Regions from separate parts of the Homo sapiens genome. Here region 2 is linked to region 1. The links come from fine-mapping of genetic effects on plasma protein levels. A gene starts in region 1. The other region holds a variant in brackets. All regions are shown on one strand. Distances are from middle to middle.

Region 1 (10,573 bases):
CTGCTGATTATCACACTAGGGTCCTCAAAAGGGAATTCCAGAAGCTTCTTTTGATAAAACCTCAAAATCATCAGATCTGCTGCTGCCAGAACCAAAAATAGCTCGGCCTAGTTGGGAAAGTATTGGTCTGGGAGTTGGATGGTGTGGGGGCCCTCGTTTTGTACTAACGGGCTTAGTGTCCTTGTAGGCACTGTGAGCGTCTCTGCATGTCCGTGCTGTCTTCTATGCATTGTGGATGATGGAGCAGCACCCCTGTCATCACGGGGTAGATAGGTGTCCCGAAAACGATGACAGCCATGAAAAGACTGGGTGAACACCAAGCCTCAATCCCAGGAGGGAGAGAAAGGGAGAGCCGTGATAAGAAAGCAGCCGCACTAGAAATGCTTCCCAGTTGCCCTTGTGGCAGGAATAAAATCCTCCTACACTCAGGTGTTTGGTGGTCAAGGAGTGGCCCTTTGGTGAGGAGGTAACTCACCAAAGGTTTCTGCTGCCTTTTAACTTGCTGTAAATTAGTCAGCCGTGCTCTCTCCTCATCTGCTTGACCTATGACTCTGTGGCCCATGACTGCCTCATTCCTGGTTAATGCAAGGAAGGGCCCAGTAGCAGCCAGAAATGTGAATGGCTATTCTCAAACATGGGAGGTTACCTACACCAGGATAAATAAAATGGTTGCCTTTCCTCTTTTACAATAGTCATTTTGTTCTTCTTTAAGATTTGAAAATATAGTAAGGCAGGTCCCAGAATAACATTGTTTCTTTCAATGTTGCTTTGTCATAATATTGGTGAGAAAAAAAAAAAAATCAATTCCTGGCTGGAGCCACTGTCTGTGTGGAATTTGCAAGTTCTCACGTGAGTTTTCTCCAGGTACTTCAGTTTCCTCCCACATCTCAAAGATATCCTCGTTCCTTGGTACGTCTGCATGGTTCCAGTCTTAGTGAGTGTGGCTGTGTGTGTGTGAGCGTGCCCGGCAATGGAATGGCCTTCTGTCCAGGGTCCCCAGCTTGAACTCTGAGCTGCCAGTATGGGCTCCAGCCACCCAACACTCTGAGTTGGAAAAAGCAGGTTGGAAAATGATTGAATAATGAACAAAAATTGTTATCAAATAAAAATTCATGAAGTCTACAATAATCATACAGGCATATGACAATAAATGATGCTGCATGGAAGCGTTCAGCGAGCCCATCATATTTGTTGTTGGGTTTTTTTGAATTGCATGGTGGTAGGAGGTGCTTATAATTTTTGCTTTAAAACATTTATTCCTTGCTTTAACCCACCACCACTATGACTGCTGTCACTCACTGATTCACCAAACATTGGGTAAATAATTCTCACACTTGTTTCTATTAATCTTTCTGAAATGTACGTATAGCTCACATTTATTTTCATATTTACCATTAGAAGCATTTTGGTCTTTCTTTAGAAGTTTAGTGATGTTTTTGTGACCAGAACTATGTCATAGGAATTTAAATAAATCTTAATTATGTCAATTAGCCTAAGGTAAAATTGGCTTCATTGTATGTTGTTTTGCTTAAAGTTGCAGTTTCCAAGAACATATAGATAATGTTAAATGGGGGCTTATTGTATAATTAAATAGTATTTATTGAGCTCTGACTACATGCTAGTCTGTGTTAATGTTTATTTATATTCTTTCATTTACTACCCATAATAATTCAGTGAAAATGTTACCAGAAAGAGGTTTCAATCCAGACCCCAAGAGAAGGTTCTTGGATCTCACGCAACAAAAAATTCCAGGCGAGTCCATAGAGTTAAGTAAAGCCAAGTTTATTCAGAAAGTAAAGGAATAAAAGAATGGCTACTCCACAGGCAGAGCAGCCTCAAGGGCTGCTGATTGCCTATCTTTATGGTTATTTCTTGATTATATGCTAAACAGGGTGTGGATTATTCATGAGTTTCCTGGGAAAGGAGTCGGCAATTTCTGGGAACCTAAGGGTTCCTCCCTTTTTTAGACCATATAGGGTAACTCCCTGATGTTGCCATGGCATTTATAAGCTGTCATGGTGCTGGTGGGAGTGTATTTTAGCATGTTAGCGCAATATAATTCACGTATAATGAGCAGTGAGTCCGACCAAGGTCACCACCTTGGTTTTGTTGGGATTTGACTGCCTTCTTTACCGCATGCTGTTTTATCAGCAAGGTCTTTGTGACCTGTATCTTATGCTGATCTCCTGTCTCATCCAGTGAGTTAGAATGCCTAACCTCCTCCAAACGCAGCCCAGTAGGTCTCAGTCCTATTTTACCCAGCCCCTATTCAAGATGGAATTGCTCTAGTTGAAATGCCTATGACAAAAAGGCATCATTATGCCCATTTTACAGGGAAGGAAACTTTCAGAGGGACTAAGTTACATGCCAAGCTCCCAAAAGTACTACATGCAGACCCAGGATTTGAACCCTGTTTTATTTTATACAAAACCCATCCCCCTGCATATTATGCCATTTTGTCTCAAAAACAATAATAGTACCCACAGAAAGAAGATGAAGAGGAAGAGCTGGGAGCACATATTTAACCAAAAATAAGAAGTCCATAGGTCTTGGACGAATACACTCCTACCAGCACTGGGCAGGCAGACAGAAGAGGGCCCAGATTAAATTAAAAAGTGTGTGATTAATTGGCAGCTAGTAAAGAACAAGATGAAATCCTTCAGAAAACAAATATATGAGTTTTGGTGAGCTGAAGAGATCTGTATCTGAAGTCAGAATATTTAATATACATCATATATAATTAATATTATTATTATTTAATGTTCTTTTAAAGGGTGACTGGGTCAGTATAACTGAGCATAATCTGTTTTGTCTCAGAGTCTGGCTATCTTTTTTCCCAATATCAGTCTCTCAACTAAACCAAACATGTTTTTAACTTCTCCCACTTAATTTAGTAGGTTAACAAGTCTATGTAAAAGAAGAGTATCATAATTTAGCTTAATAGTCCCTTGCAATACTATTTTAATATTTTAAAATCAAAATATCACTTTAAAACCTATAGGAATTATTTTTGCTTCCTTTGGCTTTGGTTCTTTTGTATCATACAATTTTATCATTTAAAATCAAAGATCTTACCATCAGATTTACCTGGGCTATAGTAGTAATTTTACCACTTACCCATGGCCAAATGTGTATGACAATCCCTACTTCATGAGATTATCATAAAGATGAAATTAAATGAGACAATTTTTTTTTTTTTTTTTTTTTTTTTTTTTGAGCTGGAGTCTTTCTCTGTCACCCAGGCTGGAGTCAGTGGTAAAATCTCTGCTCACTGCAACCTCCACCTCCCGGGTTCAAGCAATTCTCCTGCCTCAGCCTCCCGAGTAGCTGGGACTACAGGCGCCTCCCACCATGCCTGGCTAAATTTTGTATTTTTAGTAGAGACGGGGTTTCACCATGTTGGCCAGGCTGGTATCGAACTCCTGACCTCATGATCCACCCACCTTGGCCTCCCAAAGTGCTGGGATTACAGGCATGAGCCACCACGCCCAGCCCTAAATGAGACAATTTATGTGATTTTTTTGCACATGGGAGGCACTCAAAAAATAAAAGTGTCCATTTCCTTCACCTCTGAATTCATACTCTTTATTTTAAAGTTGCAGTGTCGTGTATACAGATGTAAAAGAGAGCTTTGGAATCAGTGAGGCCTGGATCCAAACCCCATCTCTGCTTTCCACCAGCTGTGCGACCTTGGGCAAATGTCCTAGTCTCTCTGAACCTCACTTTCTTCTTCTGTAAAAGGAAAATAATGGTACTACTTTGCAGGAATGCTGAGGTTTACAAATAGCATATGCCAAGTATCTGGCACATGTTAGGTGCAAAATAAATGGTTTTGCTTACACTTAGATAAAATGACTTTTGTTCTATGAAATGGAGCTAATGATTAGGTTTTATGGAAAGGCTTTATTTATTTATTTTATGATTAGGTTATACAAAAATGCTTTATTTCACCTGGAAGCTTACCTGGGTGTCATTTTATGGTTGTCTCATCTGACCATTTTTAAACCATGGTTGGATCTTGTGGAAATGTTTAGAGCTCGTTATGAAGCCAATGTAAACAAAGGTACCTATCAGCTGTTGCAGACACTATCCCATCCACAGGGGCACCCCTGACATAGCTGTAGCCCAACTTCACCCTGAAGTCTTGGAAAGGTTACATGATTCAGACAGATGTAGTAGGCATGAGATTACAGGCCAAGAGGAAGAGGCCGGGGCTGTAGGCAGTATACTTGACAGGCTCATACACTGCAAGCCTTGTTCCGGGCCCCTTACAAAGCACCTCTTTAGGATGAAAACAAGATGGTCTTTGTAAATAAAAGTTCATGCATTTGGGTAATGAAGTCATTTTCCAGCGCTGCAGTGAAAGATATTCTTCTCCCAAGCCCTCTGGGTGAGGACTGGAGGGAGGAAGAGGGGTGGCCAGTGAATCTGAAGAGAAGATATTAGCACAAAGAGTGCAACAGTCTATCCCCCAGAAAAAACCCGAGAAACCTTGCTCAAGAAAGTGGGCACCCTGACCCTCTGCCTTCAGAGATCATCTACCTTTGGTTCCTGCCCTGGAATCCCTTTTCCACCCACTTTCCTGCAAACTAGCGGGGGCCACATAAAATATCTATGTAAATATAGATAAGACATCCGGTACCTTGACTACATAAATAAGAGTGGTGAGGAAGCGTCACAAAAGCTGAATATTCTTCTGGAGCCCTTGGAGGGGCTCCAAACTGAGAGGGGAGGGAAGACCGCAGGGAAAGGCGGACCTCAGTGTCTGAAAAGCCAGCTTAGAGTGGGAGGGCCTGGGAGTAGAAGGTAAAAAGGGAGTGGTGAGAATGAATGTGAGAAGGAAGCCAGGACAGCGCAGTCCCCAGTCCCGAACGGCCAGGGAGAGGAGGTGGCCTAGCGCTGGCGGGGCTCACCCCAATCCGTCTGCCTTTTGATGCCGTACTGTAAGCTCCGTCCATCTGTAGGTTCTTGAGCCAGAACCTCTGCGGGAAGGAGAAAAAGTGAAAGAGGGAGAGGGAGAGGGAGAGAGAGGGGGAGAAGGGGAGAGAGAGAGAGGGAGAGAGAGGCTGGAACTCTCCCTTACTCTCGCACTTTCCCTTTATTTCCTAAGCTGCTGGTTGCGCAGCCACCTCGGGATACTGCACACGGAGAGGAGGGAAAATAAGCGAGGCACCGCCGCACCACGCGGGAGACCTACGGAGACCCACAGCGCCCGAGCCCTGGAAGAGCACTACTGGATGTCAGCGGAGAAATGGCTTTGAGCTCAGCCTGGCGCTCGGTTCTGCCTCTGTGGCTCCTCTGGAGCGCTGCCTGCTCCCGCGCCGCGTCCGGGGACGACAACGCTTTTCCTTTTGACATTGAAGGGAGCTCAGCGGTTGGCAGGCAAGACCCGCCTGAGACGAGCGAACCCCGCGTGGCTCTGGGACGCCTGCCGCCTGCGGCCGAGGTACAGTGTCCCTGCCATTGCCACCCTGCTGGGGCACCTGCGCCCCCGCGGGCTGTGCCACACTCGTCCTTCTCTCTCTCTCCGCCTCTTTCCTCTCCCCAGTGCCTTGAGAGTTTCACCTGGGCTAGGTCAGTTCGGAAACTTGAAATAAAGAGTTTTCCTTTGTAAGTTGCATTTGGATGTTGAGAGTTGAAAGTTGAGGCTTCGGAATGTGTCTGCTCAAAGGGGTGAGAGTGCATGTGTTGGTGCTCTGAGTTCATCCGCTAGACTCTCACCGGGGACTGCAGCAGCACATCGGTGACTTCTGCCACTTGCGTGTCCCAGTAGTCATTTTGTCAAGCCACGGCACTTAACGTGTGTGCCCTGTCACTGGCTTCCTGCTCCTCTGTGCTGTTAGGACAGTGGGAACACTACTGCAGGATCTTTTTGTCTCATATTAGACAAGAAGTCTTCTGCAGCAGGGAAGGTGAGGGGGTGAGTGAGAGTGGCTGGTCATGAAAGGAGCTGTTAGACAACTGCTGAGAGGGTATCTTAAGTAGAAACGAGCCATTGTATTCCAGAAACAAGATGTTTCCATTAAAATCAAGCCTCAGGATATGCTATTGATAATATGTTTATTCAAAGAGCTGCTGTTTGAATACCTTACAATAGCTTTTAAGTTGGAAACAAAACCAGAATGTAGAGGTCTGGTAAAGGAGAATGAATCCAGAACAAGTGATTTAAGAACCCCTGAACTGAAACAGACAACAGCATGCCCATTGCATGGGACATGCTAAGAGGGAGGAAAATAAAGTCACCTAAGTTCATGGGAAAGGAAGGAGCAATTGACCTAGCAAAACAAACACCACACTCTATAGCTATGGTTACAGCAACTGTACAACTAAAACAGTTATGTGGATTGACACCATTTCTAACATCACTGATGCATGGATTATTGCTATGAATTCTGTTAATTGTTAGTACAATTATAGTTATTAATTATTGATGATTAAAAATAAGGTGCATGAACATGGTCCTTCTTCAGAGTAAGCCCTACCCACATTGCCCCAAAAAAGAGAGTGGACAGGGTCAGAATATGCCAACCTCTCACTGTGGTATAAAATGTAGCCTCCATGAAAAAGAGGGAGCATGGCTTCTGGTCAACTTCATACCCAGAAACTTGGGGAGAAGCCAGACCAGGAGGGACTTCATGCAATGGGAAGGCTTTGCTTCTCTACAGGCTTGGAATTAACCCCAGGGAAGCATTATCTCCACCTGTTGCTTTGAGCACGTAAAGTCCCTGAATGAAATGCTTAATTTTACTTAAGAGTAAAATTGGCAGATAAATTGCAGGACACTCAAATGTGAATTTCAGATAAATAATGAATGAATTTTGATCACATCCCAAATACTGCAGAGGACATATTTATATTAAAATTTGTTTTCATTGTTCATCTGAAATTCAAATTTATCCGGGCATCCTGTATTTGTATCTGTTAGGTCTAAAGAGACAAGCCATATACAACTGTTTTTTGTAACTCTCATCCCACAAAAAAAATAGGAAAGTAATTTTTTGAGTTTTAGAGAACCTTAAAATTAATGCTAAGACCCTAGGAAATTTCTTATGTGCTCATATGTTTGGTGAAATAATAGGAAGGCAGCACAGCAAAGTGTTTCAGATTGCAGGTTTTCAGTCTGATGGTCCCAAGTTGAAATTTCAAGCTCTTTGACCTTGGTCAAGTTACAGATCCCCAGACTGCAGATAAACTGATACTGACAGAATTTATTGATGCCTGCTTCATACCTCATACTTTTATTGTAATGAAATTAGATAAAATAGAGTGCTTAGCATAGTGCTTGACATAGTATAAATGCCCTATATATGCCAAGAGTTGTTACAATTGTTACTATAAAAAATGTGGATGATGATCAGATTAAAAGAAACCCTTATTTGAGAATATTCCTTAGAACCTTATGTTTATGGTTTTCTTTTACTTAATATTATTATATCTGTTTATCTATATTCTTCCAGCTGGAAAAAAAATGTCACGTAGTGAATTAAATTTGTAGTAATGTCAGAGTCTAATAGGTTCAGAATGCCAGTGGAGGCCTTCAGTTTTGAAAAACAGAAAGAAGATATTAGTCATTCCAGGAAGGTCAAAGTATATGGTGTAGAAAGGGTGAGATTGAGGTAATTATGTTCCCACTGCATAGTTTCACATAATGCCTCCAGTTAGCCTGCGGTCCCATGGCGATCCCAACGCCCCACCATCAGGTTTCCCATGCTCTTTATAGCAGTAACCAGACCTTAAACCAAATACATTCCGGAGACTTAATAACATGGTACAAACACTTTACTGGGTTGGCTCAGGAGACTGTATTTGTGTATATGTGGAGAGAGAAAGAGAACACGGACACATTATTCATGGGAGAGGTTCAATGTGTGGATGGGAAGATATTCTAAAAATACATTCTCTTTACTTGGATTTATATGAATGGTTATTCTGCAATTCTCCTTCAGAGGGAATGAAGAAAAATATTAAGGCAAGCATGGAGCAGTGGGAGGTGCTTGGCTGAAGGCCTTCCTGAGGTTCTCCTAAGCTCTTCAATAGCCCAGCTTGTGGACTCTCCATCCCTGAGTACTTGGCCCAAGACACAAACTCTGGCATGCTGTATTGCTCCATGTGAGCTGGGGAACAAATACATGAAATATGCACGGAATAAAAGGATAGAGATTGTTGGCTGACCAAAAAGGAAGTCTCCTCTTTTCCTTGTAAAACAAGCCAAAGCTTCCCCCCAGATGCAAAGTATTTGAAAAGAAGAGCACCTGTGGGTAACTCCGTACTAGTTGTGGGGAGGATTTTCCCACCTTTGCTTCTTGACACTTAATCTACTGAGTCCTTTATTGCTGAGTTTATGGTGAGAACAGTGATTCTCAACAGGTGATTCTCAAAAGGGAAGACTGGGCAGTTTCAATAATGATAATCAGTATTCTAATATTTCACATTAAGGAAAAGAAAGTCTATTCATTCCACCACACACACTATAGCAGGAAAAACTAGGCCAAACTCTTCTTGACCAATATAGATATGGTAGATATGGAAAAGAACTGGTGTGGGGGCAGGAATGAAGATGGGAACACCCCCACAAGAAGCCAGTAACAGAATGTCCTTAGGAAGAATGAGATTCTTGTCCATCAAAAAGAAGTAGGAACTAAACAAGGTCAAGAACATGAGGTTGGAGGTTACATTGTGTGGCTGGAAAGAAGCCACACAGAGACTGAGAAACTGAGAAGGCAAGGACTCTTCTGACAGGGCAAGGTGGAAGGTGGTGGAGGAGGTGACGGTGCTATTACTGGCTTTCACAGATAAATGATAGAATAAGGGATACAATTGACAACATTGAGTTGTCAATGAGTTGCCCCTCAGAGGGGAAAAGAGGAATTTCTCTCCTAGAAACCTCAGTTTTGCTATTGTTGTCATTATTGTTGTGTTAACTTCACTCCAAGAAGATCAGTGCCCATGAACATACCTTACACTGGAAAAACTGACTTGCTAAAAAGAAACTCTATAAAGCAGACTAACTCTGAGGGACTTTTCCTCTTGACTTTTTTCCTTGTTGATACGTGACCCCATGTCCCAGCACATTGTTAGGGTCCTGCCATTAAAAGATTGCAGAATGTTTAATAAAAACATTTTAGATCTCTTTAACCATCTGCTTTCTTTTTTCTTATCTTGGTCACTTGCTTTGAAAAAGGTCCCTTGAGATCACACTAAGACCTCCAGTTGCTAGCCTGGGTTATCACTCTACATTGCTGTTCCAACAATTCAATTAGGTAATCTGAACCCCTTACATGCAGTCATTATTTCATTCATTTATTCACCCAACAAGCTGGTTTGGAGCCTTACCTCGAAAGAGCAATAAAATAGGTACAAGGAGCAATAGAAAGAAGGTATAGTCTCATCTTTGCCCTCAGGGGTGAGCAATTGAAGAGAGAAAAAAAATAAGTGGCCATTATATACAGAACAATGTACTAACATTCTATAAGAGTGGCTACAAGGTAAGTGCCATGGAGGTAATGTGAAAAAAGTATTATTCCTGTGCTAGACCAGTAGGGCACAAAACTTACTTGCCAAACACCAAAATAGGCTTCAAAAACCTTATTTTAGAAGAACTGGAATATAGCAGTGGTGGTAATAGCAATAATAGTATGGCTCATAGCTGATACTCGTTGAGTACTTACCACATGCCGATACTGATGTAAACACTTCCCATGAGTAATTTCCAGTAACTTTCATGACAAATCAATGTGACTGGTATCGTTATTATCTCATTTGATACACATAGAAACCGAGGCACAGAGCATTTGCCCAGGCCCCTGCTTGTAAGCAGCACAGCTAGGAAGGAGTTTATAAAAGCAGTTCAACTGTGCAAAAGTAGCTAGGAAGAGGTGATTAGGTAAATAGAAATATATATAGGAATACTTCTAGTCAAAGTTTTGGGAATTCCTTTTTTTTTTTTTTTTTTTTTTTTTTGAAACAGAGTCTTGCTCTATTGCCTGTCTGGAGTGCAGTGGCTTGATCTCAGCTCACTGCAACCCCTGCCTCCTGAGTTAAAGCGATTCCCCTGCCTCAGCCTCCCAAGTAGCTGGGATTACAGGCACATGCCACAACGCCCAACTAATTTTTCGTATTTTAGTAGAGACAGGGTTTCACCATGTTGGCCAAGATAGTCTCTATCACCTGACCTTATGATCCACCCGCCTCGGCCTCCCAAAGTGCTGGGATTACAGGCGTGAGCCACCGCACCCTGCTGGGAATTTCTTTAAATGAAGAAATATAAAATGCAATTTAAAGACCATTTTTGCAGTGCTTGTTAGATGAGTAGCATAAGTTACAAAAAGTTGAGATAACTTCCCTTCTCCGTCTAGCCTAATGACTACTTTTTAAAACTACTCACGTAAGAAAGAAAAAAACTAATACTTGTTGACTTCTACTATGTCCCATCAACCTCCATGAATTGTCTTAATACTAAATAGTGAAAATTATACCCATTTTACAGATGAGTTCATTGACATTTAAGAGTGGTAATTACCTTAACCAAATTTTCATATTCCTTTCTCTGCTTTCTGTATACCAGGGAGTCTTC
Region 2 (10,573 bases), 110 kb after region 1:
AGGTTGTCCCTCAGCTCCTGGATCAGCTTCGTACGGTTGAGCAGAAGCGACCTGCAAGCAACGTTTCTGCCAGCATCCAGAGGATCCGAGAGCTCATTGCTCAGACCAGAAGTGTTGCCAGCAAGGTAACTGATGAAAAGACTCATCAGTCAGTCAGCGGTAATAATAACACGAAGCTGAGCTCCAACTGCTTGGGCAGCTTCCAGAGCCTGGACCTTTCTGCTGTATTCTCCAACTCAGTAGTTCTCAGCCCCATTTGCTAATTAGAAACACGTGAGGAACACTGAAAACGAAACCAATTCCTGGTCCCAACCTGAAAGCAATAGATCAGACTCTGTAGAGAAAGGGCTCAGTACCTGTATGTTCTTTAAAGCTCCCAGGTTATTCTAATGTGTAGCCAGGTTTAAAAACCACAGAGTTAAACTAGTCAATAAAGCTAATATAGCAAAAGAAGTAAAGCCTCAATAAAAGCCTCAATTCGTTCTTATATTTTATGTTATTTTAACAGCTGCTTTAGTGCAATTACCATAATGGAATAATCTATCCCATCTGTCCTACCCCTTCAAGAAATTATCTGGTACAACACAAATTATGCAGAAGCTTTTACTGACCACCCGCAGGGTTAACTGAGGAATCACATACTGGCTAAGAGGAATAAACTCAACAAACACACTATATGTGTTTTGGGACACATATAGAAGCAACTTAGCAGAAGATAACTAGGGCTGGCATTTGTAGGAACATCTCCTGACATAGCAATTACTTTTCAATGTGGCAAAGTGGAGCTTGTTCTTGGACCTCTTGAATTTTTTTAATTGATTCATAGACCAGACTCACTTTTTATGACCAAAGTATATGGTTTTATTTTCTCAGTTAAGAATCGGCCTGAGCAGACTACTGGTCCTAATTACTGACAGAAAGAAGAGTTAGAAATCAACTATTTCGTAATGTAGAAGATTATTCTTGGTAAATAGACCTGACTTTTAAATGATGATAAATGGTCCCTTGTGACAAATTACCTTATTTAGATGCCCCAGTGAACATTTTCAAAAAAGGTTTATCTAAAGGTACATCAAGAAATGGCATTCTAAAAGCTAGGTTTTTATGAGTGCTTTCTTGTAATATTATTTCTATAAAGAGTATGACTTTGGGACCTTAATCACCTAAGACCATTTGCTAAAGACAGACTTAGCCCCACCTTTGGGAGTTGGGAGCTCACTCAGTGCCCCCAAGTGGGATGCTTTTCATGCAGACATGCACTATTCTCAGACTCTCACTTATTAATGTAAGACTTTAATCCCCCACACTGCTTGTTTATTAAGATGTATTGGTCTTGGCCGGGTGCGGTGGCTCATGCCTGTAATCTCAGCACTTTGGGAGGCCAAGGTGGGCAGATCCCTTGAGTCCAGGAGTTTGAGACCAGCCTGGCCAACATGGCAAAACCCTGTCTCTACCAAAATACAAAAATTGGCTGGGCGTGGTGGCGCACACCTGTAGTCCCAGTTACTCAGGAGGCTGAGGCACGAGCATTGTTTGAACCTGGGAGATGGAGGTTGCAGTGAGCTGACATTGTGCTACTGCACTCCGGCCTGGGTGACAGTGAGACTGTGTCTCAAAAAAAAAAAAAAAAAAAAGTATTAGTTTTTACTCAACTGATAACATAGGACAGCTGCACTCCAGTCATTTGGAAATAGAGCCTTGAGCTCACTGACCACCCACATTAGCCAAATCAATATTAATAAATTAATATAAAGATGCCTAATCATTTGGAAAGATTCAGATAAATGACATAAGTATACACAATCCATACACTTGTAAATACTCTAAAAATTATCCCTGAATCAGACCAGCTCAGCATATCATATTGGGCCTCTTAGAAATGCACTTACTGAATTGTGCTTTGTTGTGATGCCTTTCTGTGAGCCATTATAAGAGGCACCTTATGAACTCATTATTACAGTTATTATAATGGTAGGACCAGGCACTGGAAAGCACTTTATAGTTATCGTATTTCATGCTCACAACAAATTTATTATCCTCATTTCACAGATGAGGAAACTGAAGGTTAAGTGACTTGCTCAAGGTTACATAGTTAGGAAGTGGTAGAGCCCACCTGGTCTGAGACTACAAAGCTAGTCCAGACCCCTCCCAACTGTGTAGACAAGGGCAAGGATGTTGCTCACAGCCTCACCCCATGTCCCTTTTATGAGGACCCTAGGGACAAAGTCCCAGCTGTATTAGTAACCAAAATTAGTTCTACTTCTCCCAAACAATTAGTTTTGTATAAATTGTATGAGCCTTGTGAATTGTATACTGACCAGACAACTTGAGCAAGTTGTTTAGTTCACCCAAACCAAGTATACTGTTCATGGTGGAATTCATATTTATCCTCATTCTTGGATCTACTTAGTCACCACTTTTTTTTTGCTTTCTTTCACCCCACTTTAAACTACTGTGTCACAATCTGCCCTAAGTCTTCTCTTCAACTAGGGGAGGATGTGGTAAATAACTACAGGTATGGAGGTGAAGAGAGTTTATAGGCCCCTGTCACGAATGAGGGAAGCACGGGAAAGCACTCTGCCCATTTCTGCAAAGCACTTTTAATGAAACCGTTGTGTCACTCCAGATCCAAGTCTCCATGATGTTTGATGGCCAGTCAGCTGTGGAAGTGCACTCGAGAACCAGTATGGATGACTTAAAGGCCTTCACGTCTCTGAGCCTGTACATGAAACCCCCTGTGAAGCGGCCGGAACTGACCGAGACTGCAGATCAGTTTATCCTGTACCTCGGAAGCAAAAACGTAAGCACATGAGTTTGAAAGGAGGGAATAATATTTACAAGGAAAGCTGCTTTTTCTCTTGCCTAAAATAAAGCCACCTAGGCAAACAAACCAAAACAATGCCCATTCTGGTAACTCAGAAGATCTCATTTTAATGGCAAAATTAAAAGAATGACTAAAGGACAAGTCATTTCTTCTCTGTGTGGGATATTGTGGGGATTGTTTCCTATCACCATCACACTACTAACTTTGATGAGTCTGAATGAAACACCTCAAAGACTTTCAGAAAGACAGAAGCCTATTCTGTTTGATGCTGAATCCTGTTTAGAGATGCATAGTGATCGGTACTGTCAGGCTGTATTATATTCCTGGGTTAGCCTCACAAAATTAGCCCATTCCTGGCAGCCAACAAATTTCCACGAGCCTGAGCAAGATGGGGCCAGCAGACTCTGATGTGGCCACAGGGAGGCTGGAAAGGAAGAGACACTGCCTGCTCACAGGAGCTTCGGATAATAATTCAGGCCAGAAGTCACTTGTATATACCCAAATATTTGGATTTCTGATTGTCCTTTAAAAAAGATGATGTTCATTCTTATGAATTTTATTTAAATGACTTCTTACTTCTTGATATTTCAGGCCAAAAAAGAGTATATGGGTCTTGCAATCAAAAATGATAATCTGGTATACGTCTATAATTTGGGAACTAAAGATGTGGAGATTCCCCTGGACTCCAAGCCCGTCAGTTCCTGGCCTGCTTACTTCAGCATTGTCAAGATTGAAAGGTACAGTGAATCCATGACACAGGGCATATATGCACATATCACAAGAAACCTGTTGAACGTGCACATGTGCGTGCACACACACACACACATACACAGTCTTCCTGTGGATGTTATAAATAGCATTTTCCTCCCTTTATTCTTGCTCCGTTTTCTTCCATTATTCTTATATTCTTTCCCAAACACCTTAGTAGGAAAGAAAAAAAAAAGTCATTTCTAAATCACGATCTGATTATTAGATTTTACCTGGTCAATCCATGAATTAACTTCAAAATGGAATGTCTTTCTTCTCTTTCTCATTGATTGTGGTATTTTGTAAATGCTTATTAGTGTCACAAAATTACCCATTTTGTGATGAGGGAGCATTAACATTTTGACATTTAAAAAGTATTTTCTATGAATTATATAATAACAAGTGAAAATTATTTATCTCAATAGGGTGGGAAAACATGGAAAGGTGTTTTTAACAGTCCCGAGTCTAAGTAGCACAGCAGAGGAAAAGTTCATTAAAAAGGGGGAATTTTCGGGAGATGACTCTCTGCTGGACCTGGACCCTGAGGACACAGTGTTTTATGTTGGTGGAGTGCCTTCCAACTTCAAGGTCAGCCATACAGCTATATTTTGACCTATTACAAATCTACAGTAATTGTTTTTATAAATCCATAAACCTATAATGACTTGGGGGTTGCTGATATCACTTTAAGAGCTTAGTTCATGGGGGAGTAGAATTCTGAACCAGAATCTATAAACCTGATGTGTAAATCTGGTCTATGCTACTCATATTTTCATAATGTCAAATGCTTTCAAGTTATAGCTAACTCCTGAAGATCAGTTCATTCATTCTGATACATGCATATGTAATTAATATTACCCCCACCTGCCACAGGAAGGTCCGTAGCTTGTGGTGTCACCACAGTTTAGATCTAATCTTCAGCTTTGCAGTGGTGGTTTCAAAAATTCAGTTATCTCACCTAATACAGGTATGAAATAAAGTATCTGGGATGAGAGAGGGGGTGAGACTTCGGAGAGAGTATGAAATCTGATGAAGGGGGATAAAGGAAAGGTCGAAGAAGATGGGAAGTTGATCTAGGGTTCCAATTTCAGGACTATTATTACTAGTTATGGGCACATAATTGGAATTTATCTGAGAATTATTTTCCCTCTCATTATATGAGAACAAGAATACCTACCTAACAAAGCTGGCGCAAGGACTGATTTTTGTCATGAATTCACTGTACAGCCTATGACCAGCACATAATCTATGCTCAGTAAATCCCACTTTCTCTGCTAAGATTTGCACAACTGACAAGTTACGCCATATCTAAATGATTTGGCATAAACACACTCGGGTCTAGAAAGATATTTCCACAAAGGGGTAGGTCTCCTTGACCTACTATTAGTTGCATTGTCTGTTCTGTGATGTCTGAGTAAAATATGACCATGAGACAAGTGGTTTTACTTTTTCTATTGCATAGCTCCCTACCAGCTTAAACCTGCCTGGCTTTGTTGGCTGCCTGGAACTGGCCACTTTGAATAATGATGTGATCAGCTTGTACAACTTTAAGCACATCTATAATATGGACCCCTCCACATCAGTGCCATGTGCCCGGTAAGAGACAGTTAAGAGTACTAAAGACTTGGATATTCATGCAAGAGCAGCAGATAGAACAAGTATGAGTCAATATTCAGGTTCTCAAACTTTTCTTTGGGGAAGCCAGTTTTGAAACTACATAAGTCATACCTGCAAAAAACTCTTCACCTGTTCTCTATCATAGATGAGCATGCCCAAGTATGAAGTGTTAAACAACTTGTTTGCAGCCTTGATTAAGGATTCCAGAGACTAGGGTGTCCCTGGAGACTTCAGTTGTCTTAGCACACAGGATACAGAAGAAAACAATCCATTTAACATACCTACAAATACCTCTTTATCTCTTCCTTGCAGACAACAGGACTTCATTTAAATGTTGTAAGGTCCACAGAAGATGTTAGAAGAATGGGTTAAAAGGGCTTCACTTGAAAAGCATAACAGAAACTGTAGTGTTCAAATGACCGTTGTGTTTCCATTTCAGAGATAAGCTGGCCTTCACTCAGAGTCGGGCTGCCAGTTACTTCTTCGATGGCTCCGGTTATGCCGTGGTGAGAGACATCACAAGGAGAGGGAAATTTGGTCAGGTGACTCGCTTTGACATAGAAGTTCGAACACCAGCTGACAACGGCCTTATTCTCCTGATGGTCAATGGAGTGAGTAAAAATACAAGTCCTACTACTTCTCCTTTATTTCCTTTACTTTCTGCTACTCATGTTTCCAGGAACCTTCCCAGGTCTAGTGTGTCATGCCATCAAACTGAAATTCTAGTTTAGAAAGTCAAATTGGATTTTCTTCTTCAGGAAAGTAATGACAGCAATAAATAAAAGCAACCCTGAGATGCATTTCCCCACAGTACATTTTTGGATATAAATAAACTAAGAGAACTTTGAGGAAATTAGAACCAAGATCTAGATGAGCAGGGTGTCTGCAGAAATTTTGCACTGGGCTCCTAACTTTTCCAAACCATATGCCCTAATCAATTTTAAAGCAAAGCTTGCATGCTTTGTATATATGTATGTGTGTATGTAAGTATATATGTATGTACACACACACACATATATATCTTTGTTTATAAATGATACATGTGTACTATAAACAGATATAAATATAGTATGAAACAGTCAAAGCTTGTAATAAAGGACAAATTATATAAAGATAAAATAAAAGATTATATATTTAAAATGAAGATTAAATTGACTTATTTATTAATGATACAGAAATGTTTTTCTCACTAAAATTATTTTTAATAGTACTTTATCTACTGTACAGCTCAAAGAAAATAGTTTTAGTGAGAAAATGTAATTAAGTATGCTAAATATTTTCAAAAATCCTTAAACTCTTTGTGACACAGTGATTCAAAAGTCTTGTCCTAAGTCCAGTTTATTTCAACAGTAATTTTATTGGTGGTTGTAACTAGACAAGAC[A/G]CCTCACAAAAATAAAAAATGAAAGAACCATATCATTAGCTGTGCCTACTAACTCAAATAGTTTTCAATCACATTCACCAAGTGGCAAAGGTTGTCTTTGAGATTTGATTGGTGTATTTCCTTTTTTCTAATATTAGTTCTTGTAAGCTAACCAGGTATCATTTTGTAAACTTTAATAAAAGGGTTCAAAGCTATTGAAAATCTTTATTTGAAATATTTTTCTAAAGGTTAGAAATTTCTTCCCTCAAATGTTTTAATAGAGCTGATAGGAGAGTTTTTGTAGGATTGCATTTACATTGTTCCCATCAACAAAAGCAACAATAGAAAAATTCCCAAACATATTTTTTAAAAACCATCTCTCCACAGTATAACCGTCCTCAAAAAAAAGGAGAAAAAGTTACTTTCTCATCCATTATTATGATAATACCCTTACATTGATGTGACAGTATGTTTCTTTTTTGAAATAACTAGTAGGATTCATACTACTGTCAGACATTTGTCATCACGAATAAAGTTCAACAAATTTAGAATAATTCATGTTACAAAGAAAAATGTGTAACCCTCTATAAACTTAACAGCATTTTCAGAAATTTGTAGGAAGTAGCCAGCAAATATCTGTGTGTCTCAAAATGTTTTCACATCACTCTACATCTCAATACAAAATGAGTGTAAATATTCTATTATTTCGGTTATATCAGCCTTAAATCCATATAACTAGCCACACGTAAACTGCAATAAATTGCAATAGGCTAGAAGCAAAGAAATGGATGAGGAGCTACCTTCAACTCTTCAAGTGTGGAACCCCTCTTGGGAAGCCACACATATTATGTGAATTTTGTGAAAGTCTGACAAAAGGATAAAATGAAGGCCCAGAGTCAATAATTCATGTGTTAAATATTAAAAGTTAGTTTCTTTCTCTATTTTAGATTTTTTAGTGAGTATAAATGGATGTTGAAATATTTTCTTCTCTATTTCAGGTTTTTTTAAATTAGTATAAATAGAAGTTGAAATATTTTCTTCCTAAACTCCAGTAGGCTGCTTTCCACACTCCCAGGAATGTACAAACTCCACTCAGGAGATCACTTCCTATAGAATAGGGACCTTGCCACAATGCTTTATTTTTCAAATCCATTGACTTCTTGTATCTATGAACTATCTTCTGAAACAAGCAAAACTCCAGTAAATTATTTGAGTGTTACAAAATTTCTTTGATTCTTAAACATCATGTGTTCCAAGTGCATAATAATTCTATATTTATTTACATAAATCCAGTGTTTCAAAACAATACAGCAATGGCCTTCTTTTTTTAAATCCATATTTGCTGATAATATGGAAGAATTCTTTTCAGTATACCTTGAAATTATTTTTTAATTTTACTAATTTTCACCTAAAATAAATGCAGACACATCTGTTGGCCTGTTATAATTTTTAAAAGTTTCCTAAAGACAAGGCAGTTGAATAAACATGGTATACTATACTCTATTTTCAAGATTTTCTTAAAAGGCAATAATGTAGACTTAAAACTTCATCCATTAGTTCAGAAAGTAGAATGAAAACAGAAGAATTTTTACACTGTGTATAAATATTAACTTTTATGTATTAATAAGAGAAATAGCTGCTGATATGGAAGTAGTTGTCACTTTTTTTTTTTTTTTTTGAGACAGAGTCTCGTTCTGTAGCCCAGGCTGGAGTGCAGTGTCACGATCTCGGCTCACTGTAACTTCCACCTCCCGGGTTCAAGCGATTCTCTTGCCTCAGCCCCCTGAGTAGCTGGGATTACAGGTGCCTACCACCACGCCTGGCTAGTTTTTGTATTTTTAGTAGAGATAAGGTTTTGCCATGTTGGCCAGGCTGGTCTCAAACTCCTGGCCTCAAGTGATCCACCTGCCTCGGCCTCCCAGAGTGCTGGGATTACAGGTGTGAGCCACCACTCCCAGACACTGTCACTTTTATTTCATAAGAATTTCATGAGACTTTCTTAGTCTTCAAATAGTTCCAGTAATAAAGAATACAGTCTTATTTCTCAAATTCAGCTAAATCTGACTCTACTCGCATAACAGATGTTCCTATCTTACAATTCCTTTCTCTCCTCAGAGTATGTTTTTCAGACTGGAAATGCGCAATGGTTACCTACATGTGTTCTATGATTTTGGATTCAGCGGTGGCCCTGTGCATCTTGAAGATACGTTAAAGAAAGCTCAAATTAATGATGCAAAATACCATGAGGTACAAATCATTGTAGTTTGGTTGGTTTTGTTTTTGTTCTTTATACTTAGATCTGTTGATCTAATCAGGCAGTCAAATGAGACAGGCAGGATGGTAAATAAACTGAGAACTTTCATATCTAAAGAGCAACTGAAGGACCCTCATCTTCTCAACCCTAGGAAAACATTTACTTTAAAACATTGGATGTATTTTTCCTGTTGATGTTCCAATTTAAAAGTCACTGAAAGATTCCTTTTAATTGCTTAATTAACCAGAAGGCTTCTATTAATCTTAAATATCTCAATTGGTATTCCTACAGGATACTTCTATACATTTGTTGAATGAGCCAGAGTGTAGATACACAGCCTTTTTTTGCTTATCCTTTGAGCCCCACCAAATTTAACAAGAATACATATAAGTAAATACAGAATTTCCTTTTAAACCACTTATCCAGAATTTAGAAAATACTAGCACAGTTTTCCTTATAAAGAGAACTCACAAAGAATCCCCTTTAGTTTTGAAACAGATGTGCAGACTACTGAAAATATACTTCATCCATTTTCATTAACTATTTTAAATATACAACTTAATAAAGTGTATACAAGGCATAATATCTTTTAAGTTGAACCAAAATGCGAAGGGTAGGAGACTGTATTTCCCTTTTCAGTTCAAAGTCCATAGCCTCATGAGAATGGTTTACAATAAAAGAATATTTTAACTATTTCTCTGACTAGCATTTTTGCAGATTCATTAGAACTGCTCACTGTGTCACCAAAAAAATTACACCTGGTAACATGCAATCTAGATTCCAGAAGGCACCTGCTTGGGAATACAATAGGGGTCACCAGGGGTTAGGGGATAGGGAAATAAGAAATTGCTGTTCAATGTGTATACAGTTTCAGTTGTGCTAGGTGAGTAAGTTCTCGAAATCTGCTGTACAGCATGGAGCCTATAGTTAAAACTAATTTAAAATTTATTTAGGATAGATCTCATGTTAAGTGTGCGTAACACACATGCTCACACACACACACACACCACAAAGGGACACAAGGAAATGCTGGGAAATGTGTGATATGTCTCTTACCTTGATTGTAAGATGATATGAGTGTTTGCATATGTCCAAGCTCATCAAATTGTATACATAAAATATGTGTAGTTCTTTGTATGTCAACTAGACTTGAATAAAGTTGTTTTTTTAAAAAAAAAGAGAATGGTGGCACCTGTTTATAGTTCTTTCCTGAATCCTCTCAGAAGGAGCAGGAGGAAACAATAGGTCTAATCGCAAAATTTTTCTTGGGCTGGCTCCTCTTCATACAGACCTCCTTTCCCAGAAAGTGTGAACTGCTGCTTGTAGAAGCAAGAGTTTTCAAGTCTGTGAGAAAAGAAAATCTATCTATTCCCCATTTTGTGAACAAACAAGCACAAAGGCATGGAAGAACAGCTAGTATACCAGGAGAATTAAAATATATAGAAGTCATCAAAGAACTGAATATTAAATAGTTAATCAAGGCTTACTATATATTATCTCTCCCAGATCTCAATCATTTACCACAATGATAAGAAAATGATCTTGGTAGTTGACAGAAGGCATGTCAAGAGCATGGATAATGAAAAGATGAAAATACCTTTTACAGATATATACATTGGAGGAGCTCCTCCAGAAATCTTACAATCCAGGTAAGGCTTTTTGTTAAGTAGCTGTTTGTTCCTAGCAATGTACTGGGCTGGCAACATCCAGGAGAGGTCTAGTAACAGTGTACGCACCCTTACTTGCTACTTTTACACACAGGGACAGGCA

Direction of the effects. Positions count from the first base shown, and alleles are read on the strand shown. Strength reflects both the effect of a copy and how common the allele is.
For the plasma level of the protein whose gene starts at base 4,835 in region 1, allele G in region 2 goes with a higher level than allele A (moderate association).

The links. PIP is the posterior inclusion probability: the model's chance that the variant is causal. The UK Biobank Pharma Proteomics Project read protein levels with antibody pairs (Olink). The fine-mapping took linkage between variants from a reference panel, not from the people measured, so its PIPs are less certain.
Region 2: its variant is fine-mapped to the plasma level of the LAMA4 protein (UK Biobank, PIP 0.95).

Annotation. Positions count from the first base shown.
Region 1 is chr6:112,248,829-112,259,401 of GRCh38, reverse strand. It overlaps LAMA4 (laminin subunit alpha 4), which reads left to right and starts at 4,835. Exons shown (of 39, transcript NM_001105206.3): 1 at 4,835-4,943; 2 at 5,111-5,446. The coding sequence starts at 5,252. The region is part of intron 2 of LAMA4-AS1 (LAMA4 antisense RNA 1); the gene reads right to left.
Region 2 is chr6:112,134,346-112,144,918 of GRCh38, reverse strand. It overlaps LAMA4 (laminin subunit alpha 4), which reads left to right. Exons shown (of 39, transcript NM_001105206.3): 19 at 1-125; 20 at 2,627-2,800; 21 at 3,416-3,561; 22 at 3,997-4,159; 23 at 5,034-5,167; 24 at 5,628-5,799; 25 at 8,665-8,796; 26 at 10,310-10,452. The region is part of intron 1 of LOC107986633 (a long non-coding RNA gene); the gene reads right to left. Among named protein-coding and RNA genes, the nearest start is that of FAM229B, 52 kb to the right of the region's middle. RefSeq lists an enhancer at 2,904-4,103. The variant A/G (reference allele first, on the strand shown) is at 6,571.